Linked DNA regions of Homo sapiens. The protein of the gene in region 2 purifies or fractionates together with the protein of the main gene of each other region. This does not show direct contact. Each region holds a gene or a part of one and is shown on either strand. Other genes may lie near its edges. The genes, in order: TEDC1, ENPP6 and RIPK4.

Region 1 (2,901 bases), on a different chromosome or scaffold from region 2:
AGGCTGTTGGAATAAAGGAACACAGATCTCAGGTGTGAGCTGGTGGTGTTGGCATCTCAAGCAGGTCTCACTTGGTGTGTCAGGGGGCACCTAGGGGTGTGGGGGGCCAGCCCACACTGGGTGAAGGGTTGGGCACAGGGCTGACTGTGGGAGGGGACAACTGCCCTTCAGAACCCAAGGCCAGGCCCACATGGGGTGTGCTGGACCGAGCCTCCCAAGCTGGAGCCAGCTCCATAGGCCCTGGAGACTTGCAGTCCCGTTCTGCTTGCTACACCCGGACCACCCGGGGGCACGGCGCTTTCTAGGCAGGCCTGCCCCCGGCGACCGGGGCTCTGTGGTCCCAGGCAGATCCTGAGCCCTGGATAGCATAGACCTGGAGGAAAACCTGCCTCTGAGCCCCAGGTGGCTGTGTGACCTTGGGGAGACAGCATCCTCCTCTGACTGGGGCTGCTGGAGCACTGACCCAAGTGTTAGGGTTGACCTAGCCCCAGGCATCTTCCCCAGGGATGGCCGCTTCCTCGCACCCTGCTGCTGGCCTTCCATCCTCATCCTTCTTTCTGGGGGTCTGCCCGCCCGTCATCACTGGCTTCTTCCTCTTGGCTGGCTTGGTTTCAGGGGATAGGGCAGGGCTGGCTGCCACTCTTTTAATTTATTTTATTTATTTATTTGAGACAGAGTCTCGCTGTGTCGCCCAGGCTGGCATGCAGTGGCACAGTCTTGGCTCACTGCAACCTCCGTCTCCTGGGTTCAAGCGATTTTCCTATCTCAACCTCCTGAGTAGCTGGGACTACAGGCACCTGTCACCACGTCCGGCTAATTTTTTTGTATTTTTAGTAGAGACGGGGTTTTGCCACGTTGGCCAGGCTGGTCTCGAACTCCTGACCTCTGGTGATCCACCTGCCTCGACCTCCCAGAGTGCTGGGATTACAGGCGTGAGCCAACCACTTGGGCTGGGCTCTGTACTGTCCTGAGTGACGGGCTGGCACTGTCCTGCTCCAGGTGCATATGGCCGGGCAGGAGGGCAGAGGCTCAGGGCTGGTGTGACCTCTTCTTCCAGACCCAGTCCCCCTTCTCTGCCTCTTCCCTCTCCAATCCCAGAGACTTGGCCCCTGTACCTCATCCCAGGCCTGCCCAGGGGGACCTAGGGGTCAGAGGCGGATGGCCTGGCTCCTGGCCCCTAGTCTTGTGTCTGCTGGGGCTTCCTGCTCGTAGCAAGGGCCTGTGGGTTCCAGCTCTGCAGCCCAAGCCTGGGGGATTGCATGCCTCACTCATGGGCTTACAGGGCCCAACCCCTGACGCCTGCCTGGCCCCTGGTGCCAGCTGGACCTGTGTCCCTGGCTGAAGCCGGGCTGGCGCCCACCCAGTCAGCCTGCACTGGCGTTGGCAGTGCTGAGGCAGCATCCGGGCGTCCTGGTCTGCCCTTGTCCCTACCTGCCTTGTAGAGGCGGCTCAGCGAAGCCCAGGCTTCTGGCCCCTGGGACCCCTGGGTTGGGGCAGAGGAGAGGCTGCCCTGGCCCCAGGCTGCTCCTGCCCAGTGCCTCTGTGGGACCACCCTCTGTGGTGGGCTGGGGGGGCCTGGAAGTGAGGCCCCGCCCTCTCCCCGAAGCTGTGTGCGGCACTGGCCAGGTGGACTGGGGCCATGGCTGGCTTCCTTCCAAGGTTTCTGGAGCGGGAGCTGCCCAAAACCTGGACCTGGCCTACCCAAAGTGCCTGCACTCCTTCTGCACTCCTGGGATGGGTCCCAGAACCTTCTGGAATGATCTGTGGCTGGTATGTGAGCAGCCAGGTCTGCTGCCGGGTGACTGGGCAGCACCCTTGGATCCTGGTGGGGCCTCAGCCTGCAGCCTGCTCTCCCCTTTTAGGGCGGTAAGTCGGGGAGGCTGGCAGGGAAGTGGAGACCGCAGGACTTGGGGGTGGGTGGGAGGGGGTGGCGAGGGGGTGTGTTTGCTCCTCCTCTCCTGCCTGCTCCCACCCCTGGCCCTTACCTTCTTGGGAACTGTGGTGATTGCCTTCTGTCAGGTGTGTTGAAGCGGCCGTACCCATGGTGGAGGCCTTTGCTCTTCTTGTGGCGTGCTGGGGTGGGCAGGTGGGCTGCAGCCCCGGCACCAGCCTGCTCCAGCTCCCACACCGCCCACAGACCTCCCTGTCCTCATATTCTCTGACCGCAGGCCTGCCTGCCTCTGCTCTGCTCCGCCCCAGAGGGGCTGGGTTGGACCTGGTGTTCAAGGCCATTCCTATCTGCCCCCCAGCCCACTGCTGGAGCCCCAGGCCCCTGCAGCCTGCTCCACACTCTGGGTTCCCGGGGGAAGCAGGGGTAGAGTGGGGCAGGATTCAGGTGTAGAGGGCCTGTCCCCAGCAGGGGTCCCCTTGCCCCGGGCCCAGGGTCACTGGTACAGATAGCCCATGAGCGAACCTGGGAGGCCTTCCGTGTGTGGGCAGAGCAGCTGCTGTGTCCTGGCCATTCTCCAGCCGCCTGTCTGTGGGCACTGTGGGCAGGTACCTTTGTGCAGGGCCATGGGGCAGGCAGGGCGGGGTCTCCTGGCCCTGCCTGACCCTTCACTTGGGAATGTCAAGTGTGGCTCAGCTCTGCCTTCTCTGCCACCTGGGTCACTAGGCAGACTCCTCACTGCCTTAGGGGGTCCCTGAAGTTACAGGGGATGGGTTTTCCCTCCCCCAGAGCCTGGCTTGCTCCTTCGTTTGGGGCCTCCCCGTCCGCCTGCAGTCCCCGGATACAGCCCGCATTCAGTGAGGGCTGTGGGGCAGAGGTCTAGGCTTGAGAGGCACCTGGACCTGTCCCTGACCTTGTTGGACTGGCAGTGGGGCTGGTGTGGGGGACAGCGGATGTCCTCAGAGCCGGGGGGCAGCTCTTGCCTGGCAGGCAGGGCCTGGCCGTGCACTGGT
Region 2 (3,650 bases):
TTATTATGTAACTTGCAGATTTTCAGGACGAGTGAAGGAGGAAAATGGCAGAAGAGTTCAGGAAAGACAAAAATGCAAGACTGTGTCTAAGTTTATGCCTCTCTTGAGTTTGATGATCCAATTTTAATTTAATCATTTGAGTATCTCTTAGGGATTCTTCCTCCACAGTGGAGGAAAGTGGGCTCTACTGAATTCATTGGAACACCGTCCTTTAAGGAGAAAGAAACTTTGAACAATAGACGTCTTTTTCAACAACTACTGCCAATGTTTTGAAAGTTGTCATTTGTTTTCAGCTAGATAACAAAGGCTGAAGAGTTGCCTTCTTTCCAATTGATCCGATGGTTTACTGGCGCTTTTAAAACACATTACATAAATCTTTAGAAATCTTTTGTGAAGGTAAATTCAGTATTTTTAAGCAGTGATCCTTTGCTCTCATGATTCATGGCATGGAGACAGCACCCAGCTTTCCTGAATCAAGGTGAACGTTGATATTCAGTTTTCAAGGTAACACACCATATAAGGCCTCCATCGTCCTGAGGAGACCTGATATATTGCCTTTTCCTGACAAAAAGTCTCACTTGCAGATGTACCTCAATTAGTGCAAACTTTTTTTTTCTTTCTATTTTTTGGGGGGGGTGGAGGATGGGGTCTTGCTCTGTTGCCCAGGCTGGAGTGCAGTGGTGTGATCAAAGCTCACTGCAGCCTTGACCTCCTGGGCTCAAATGATTCTCCTGCCTCAGCCTCCCAAGTAGCTGAGACCACAGGCATGTGCCACCATGCCTGGCTAATTTTTTAAAAATCTTTTATGTTTTGTAGAGATGGGGGTCGCCCTGTGTTGCCCAAGTTAGTCTGGAACTCCTGGCCTCAAGGGTTCGTTTGTCCCTCCTTGGCCTCCGAAAGTGTTGGGATTATAGGTGTGAGCCACCATGCCCAGCCCAAACTCATTTTTTAATGCAGTGATAGTGTATGCAAGTATATATATGTATATAGATATAAATGATCATGTAAAAAGGAGTTATTTCTTGTGTTACAATTTCTCCTATAGCAAACACAGATGACTAAGCTAAAAATATTTCAACTCAGGCTCAGTGGCTCTTCTCAAAGGTATCAAAAGAACTTAGGTCTCAAAGGTGGTACTTTGGCCAAACTGTTTCCTAATCAAACGACCAGTTAGTTGGTCAGTGACTGGGACTCTGCTCCATCATGCTCTCTCCATTCTCCACCCAGCACCATTTTCTTTGGAATTCTATGCCACTCAAAGACTGTTGTTGAGCAAGCCATGCTGCAGGGGTACTGGTGTCCAGGATTAAGGCTTAGTGCATCACCTCTCTGAGCAACCCACCGAGATCCTTGCTGATGCCTCCACATTCTCATCAGTGAGCCAGCCCTTTCCCAGGCTATAATGTCATGTCAGGGATTGCTCTTGTCTGCACCCTATATTGGGAGCCACAGAGTGGCATGTCTGAGGAAGCCTTTGCACAGGTGAACGGACAGGGAAGGCAGGCAGGCCATCCATTTGTCCATCAATATGCAGGGCCTGCTATGTGCCGGGCTTCATGCCACGATACACTATGTGTGATAAGTCTCACAGAAGCCCATGTCCATCAGAAGCTTTTCTGCTCCTCAAGGCAAGAGAGAAATTTTCGTGCACTCAGACTTTGGGAGGGCACTCATGTCTTTCACCTTGTTCTATGAGTTCTCCAATCCTTAGTGATTTATTTATTTTTTGATTGATTGGTGATCCATGCTAAGTTACGTCCTTTCTGGAGCTCAGTATAAGATGAAAAAATTCCATGAGCTGGGTCAGAAATAGACAGTAGCTTTTGCTTTCATGTAGACCTCCTTTTATCAGGGATGGAAGGAACAGTACAGGATTGTGGCCACAGACACTGAGGATGGCTCCTGGGTGTGGACAGGGCACAGACAAGGGCCTGGTCTGAGGGGGTCCTTTGTGCAAGGTGGGACAGAGAGGGGCCCAGAGCCACGTCTGTCTGCAATAACCACTCCAAGTTTGGTTGCTGCAGGAGCAGGTCCCTGCTCAGAGAGTTCATCCTGAGTAACGTGAAAAGAAAGGAGAAAATGACATATAACTGCACAAATGGAAAGCTAGGATTTTCCTACCTTCTGGAAAAACAAGGTTTGTATCTTTTTTAACAAGTAGGAACTTTTATGTATAGAATTATCCAAGAATAATGTATTTACAATGTGCATGGTCTTGATTGTGTTAATGAAGCTATTATTCACACATAAAATGAAAATCATCTGGCTTTGGAGGCCCACTTTGCTGATGGTGTTTTTTTCTGAGACAAGCAATATGATCAGTTATGCAAGCAGGAAGAGAAGAATCAGTGCCAGGGCACAGTGGCTGGGCCAGACAGGCGGGGCAGTGCTGGCGCGGCCCTTCAGCATGCACATCACCCTGGACCAGGATCCGTTGTTGGGCAGCGGGGTGATGCCCACCACATTGCACATGACATTGTAGACGTCCACCGACCTGATAGGAGCAGCTCTGAAGTTGGATTTGAAATCTGAAAGGGAAAGGCAAACAAACAAGTTGTCATGGCAGCTCCAGGGCAGAGGTGGGCTGAACGCAATAAAGAAGAATTACATTCAGGCTGCAGGTGACATTGAGATTAGGGAATCAGCTCCATCAGTGGGGTGTGGCCTAGTGAGTGTGAACATAGAAGGGTATCCGGAAGGCTGTAGGTTAGAAAGGGAAACAGCTTTCTATGGCTCATGGAGATGAATTTCTTTAAAAGACAAGCAGCAGAGCCAGGCTTGGGGGCTCACACCTGTAGTCTCAGCAAGTTGGGAGGGCGAGGAGGGAGGATTGCCTGAGCCCAGGAGTTTGAGACCAGCCTGGATGACAGAGCAAGACACTATCTCTAAAAAAAATTTTTTAAACCAGGCATGGTGGTGTGCTCCCAGCTACTCGGAAGGCTGAGGTAAGGAGATCACTTAAGCCCAGGAGTTCAAGGCTGCAGTGAGCCATGATAGTGCCACTGTACTCCAGCCTGGGCAAGAGAGCAAGATCCTGTCTCAAAAAAAGGTAATCAGCAAACAGACTTTCTTTGTGCATAACTGTGCTCTCTTTGTGACAACAGCACTTTCTTTGGGGGCTGCGGGGAGGCTGAAGTGCCATCTGATGCTGCTCCATGTCTGCAGAGAGCACAGCAGAGCCTGTATGGTCACAGAGTGACTGTCTTGCCCTTAACCAAATTAAATGCTATGTCATTTTTCAGAACATCTATCTAGCCCGGACCGACAGCCAGAGTGCCAGCGTCTACTGCAGAGGCCGCACGGCAACTCAAGAATGTTTTCTCACTTTGCTGCCCCATCGAGGTCACAGGTCTTGATGGAATGTGAAACTGCAGTTTTCTCGGTGCTCGCTAGCTCAGCAGCCATGGCGATGGTTTCCTAAATACATTTGGAAGATGAGTGGAACACTCTTTGGGAGCATTTTACCAACAGATAAAATACATTAGCCATGTGGAAAATGAGCAAACTGGTATCTGAATCAGGGATCCATGTGCAGGCTCTGAGCGATCTAATGGAGAAGACCACTGTGCCTCTGCCCAGAGTGGCCCCAAGCTCGAGAGTCACGCAAGAACACACAGGTAGGGTGGCCACACGCAGCACGGTGAGTGAGG
Region 3 (3,650 bases), on a different chromosome or scaffold from region 2:
GGGAGCTATGGAGAATCAAGAGAGATCCAAAGTCAGAAGTCAGCATAGGAAAGGGCCCCTGAGAGAATCGGGAAGGCTGAGACCTGCGCAGAGTCCAGGGGCACCCGGGAGGCCAGCAGAGCGGAGCAGTCGCTGTGGATCCCCTTGGGCTTGGCAAAGCAGAGAGGGGAAGCCAGCAGAGCACACACACTCTGTTGGAAGAATCTGCAGGATGGGTCCATTGACTGCATGTGGAGGGGAGAAGCTTGCAGGACCTCTCTGGAGCTGCACCAGGGGTCACTAGGCAGCTCTCTACGGTGGACGCGGGAGCACCCCAGGAGGAGCAGCTGGGGGGTGTGGGGGGTGGGCAGGTCGAGTGTGTCTGAATACACTCAAGGAGCAAAGAATCCCACTGGCCTTGGGAACAAGTGAAGCAAGTATCAGGAATGAACGTGAAATTATTATGAGACAAAACTTAGGGGAGCACGGCCTGCTTTCCTAGCGCTCTGGTTAAATGACCAACTAATGGAAAACAAGATGCCCACCAGTGTGCAGTGCTAGCCTGTGGGGGTCCCTGGGCTGAGCTGAAAGCTGCCCCATCACCAGCATACCATCGGCTGCTTCCTCCCTCTCCAGGGGAAATCCCTCTCCCTGCAGCCACAGGCTTGGGCCAGGCTCTGGGACCCATCAAGGGATGGGGGGTGCAGATCAGATCGTGGGACTCTCAACCCTGTCCCCAGTCTCAGTGAGCATTGGGAAAAAAGGAAGACGAGGACCTGATGCCAACGTCAAGCATCAGCTAAAATGAAACCGGTCACCAAAGAAGGAAAATGACACCTCTCAGCTCCCAGCCTTTCTCCTCCTCTGGGAACACCGGTTGGCTGAGGCCCTCATTTGTTATTTAAAGGAATACCAGCACAACTTCCAACCCGGCAACTGCCACTAACTTCCAAACCATCGGACTGGGACATGGTACCAGCTGCTGCTTCTCTTTTATGTCTTGTTAAGAATCAGAGTTATGATTTGTCTGTTTCCGATTGCTCAAATGTGGCCAGCTTGCCGCCCCTCCCCTACCAGTGTGGCCTCCCTCCTCCGGACACTCTGCCCCGGGGCGCTGGCGAAAGTCCTTCCGTAGGACTCAGACCCACATCCACTGTGCAACCGTGTGAGGCACACCCTCCTCGCCGGAGGGTTTTGAGGAAATGACAATTCGGGTGTTTAGAGGCCAGCCATTCGCAAGGGTCATTTTTCCACATTAAGTAGACATTCTGAGAGTGAACTCTCTAAGCCAAAGCTGACTGATAATAAACACGTATTCTGAGAACAATGTCAATCAAAGGAAGGCTGAGTAGCTTATTAAGTGGAAGCTCTGAGCCACTCCACAAATAGTGTTTTCTTTTATTTGCCCAAAGGGCTTAATACATAAAACCCCGGTGACTTCTGATTGCAGAGTGAGCTCATTGGCGACTCTAACAGCTACGGGCTGGCAGCAGTGCACACCCCTCCCCAGCGCACCGAGTTCAGCAAGTACTTTACTCTCCCTGCCCCGGGCTCTTTCTGCAGAACGGAGACCCCATTTACCTTACTTTAAAAGAAACAACAAACAAACAAAAAAGGGCCACTGCTGCTAGTTGGCTCCTGAAAGCGGATCCCGGCTAGAATCTCCTAACGGAGTCCACCCCAGCTTTGCGCAACTGCCTGAAGGGAGCCCGGCACGACTTCCCCCTTCCATGGGCCACACATTTGAGGGCACTTTCTCGAGGAAAATCAGCTGTCCTGGAAAAAAAAAGTCATTGTTTCCGTGGACAAAAGTGTTGTGACAGCATGATCCAAACTGGCTTGGGGTAGACAGGATTCCAGCTGAGGAAGGGGGTCCCGGGACCGCCCTGTGGGAGATCTGAGGCCCAGGAGTGGGGGTGGGGCGGCTCCCTTGCCTACCAGCCTGGATTTCGCTCAGAAGCACCAGCATGTCCTCAGAAACTTTCCACACTGTTTACCATCCAGTAACCACTGGGCCAAAACCCACACGACCCCGCCTTCCAGCCCCTCTCCAGGTGCTCCCTAGGCGCACATCTGGGAAACTCCAGCGGCTTTAGGAAGCTCCAGCCCTTCTGGGGTCGGGTGTCGCCCGGCGGCATTTGCAATTCAATAAGCCTGAAAGGGCCTCTTTGCAACAAGCTGCAAGAAGAGGCTTTTCTGATCAGGGAGGTTAAGAAGTGCTCAGGTACTCGAAGCACAGAAAGAACCCACCAATTGCTTTTGAGCAATGGCACTATTTTTTTTAATACATTTTTTTCTCCTAAGCAGTGTTTCTGGCTTATTTTAATGATTCTGGCTTATTCTGATGACCACACAAAAGGAACTGTAGATTTATTACTATTATCATTTTAACACGTGGAGAGATGCCGAATCCAGCCTAGGTGCTGGGGTGGCGGCCAGGGAGCACAGAACATCACACAGTCACATTCGCACCGTCTCCAAATCGCATTTCTTACTGTTGACAGTGAAGTCAACGTTTCTGGGTTGACCAGAAGCCCCTCTCGTCGGTGTTAATTAAAACACAACCTAAAAACTGTGCCTTGCTCCAAGCGCAGCTACGCTTAGGCACAGTTCAGAGGGGGTGGCATCCTATTCCCCTCTCCTTCGCTGCTGGTGAAAGCGTTGCTAATTCTGCTTCCACGCAGGAACGGGAAAAGCCCCCCCTCCCCCGCAAAAGTGTCCTGGGTCCTGTTTTGGGTTCCACATGAAAAATCTCTGGGCATTAATTAGGATTAACTTGGGGTTCAACTTTTTAAAGATACGGTGAGTAGCACTTAGATGAATTCGGTTTTCTCCTCATTTAGGGCTAGCCAAAGTGTATTTCGCCCTCCCAGGGAGGCCAATGGAGTAGCGAGAAATACGAGAAATATCATCACACCAATCATCTCTAAAAGGAACTTCTAAAGAAGTCCCAAGGTTCTTCTCCAGGCTCAGAAATTCCAAAGACCTGTGGACCAGGCCAGCTGCGGTTTCCCCTGCAAGCACGCATCCTGGAAAGGGGGAAAGAACTGCCCCGGGACATGGTCTTGTGCAAGCGGAGAAGCAATAAACGAAGGGAAAAGTGAGAAGCAGGGAGGTGGGGGAGACGGTGAGACCGCTCAGGTAACAAAGAGCTCCGAAGGAGAAACCTAGCAACTACCTTCAGGAAAATGCAGCCGGAAAATGTGTTTCATCATCTGTTAGCTGATGCCTCTCAGCGAGGCCTTCTGCACACCAATCCAATTATGTTCCCAGGGAGCCTCGGAGGGGTTCCCACACGGCTATTTTTAAAACTGACAAGAAACGGGCTTGTCCAATCGTCAGCTCTGTTGTTACAAACCTGGGGTTTGCTCAGGCTCGCCCCGACCAGCCAGGGCTGAATGTGGCAGGAGCGTCTCCCAGCCGGCGCCCCGCAGGCACTGGCTTCTTCTGAGCATCCCCTTAGCTGGGGGCTGGTAGGGGAGGAACGGGGCCTTTGGGATCACTTTATTCTCTCCAAACTGGTCACAGCACCCATCCCTACACCCCACCCTAGGCCCTGTGACCCCCACAATGAGGGTCAGCCAGGGAGGCCAGCTGCCTCTCCAAAGCCACCCCACAGGACCCTCCGAGGCACCGAGCCCCATGATGAAGGTAATCTCAGATCAATGGGG

Evidence for each region.
Region 1: the proteins of ENPP6 (region 2) and TEDC1 purify together in Homo sapiens (affinity purification with mass spectrometry; 3 studies listed by BioGRID and IntAct, with this or other methods). This does not show direct contact.
Region 3: the proteins of ENPP6 (region 2) and RIPK4 purify together in Homo sapiens (affinity purification with mass spectrometry, with the first as the bait; 3 studies listed by BioGRID). This does not show direct contact.

What each region holds. Positions count from the first base shown.
Region 1 is NC_000014.9:105,494,221-105,497,121, forward strand, and holds part of TEDC1 (tubulin epsilon and delta complex protein 1), read left to right. Parts: intron 1-1,659; coding exon 1,660-1,866; intron 1,867-2,901. UniProt on the Homo sapiens protein: Acts as a positive regulator of ciliary hedgehog signaling. Required for centriole stability. May play a role in counteracting perturbation of actin filaments, such as after treatment with the actin depolymerizing microbial metabolite Chivosazole F.
Region 2 is NC_000004.12:184,088,855-184,092,504, forward strand, and holds part of ENPP6 (glycerophosphocholine cholinephosphodiesterase ENPP6 precursor), read right to left. Parts: exon of another isoform or gene 3,243-3,650; intron 2,529-3,242; coding exon 2,323-2,528; 3' UTR 1-2,322. UniProt on the Homo sapiens protein: Choline-specific glycerophosphodiesterase that hydrolyzes glycerophosphocholine (GPC) and lysophosphatidylcholine (LPC) and contributes to supplying choline to the cells.
Region 3 is NC_000021.9:41,760,428-41,764,077, forward strand, and holds part of RIPK4 (receptor-interacting serine/threonine-protein kinase 4), read right to left. Parts: intron 1-3,650.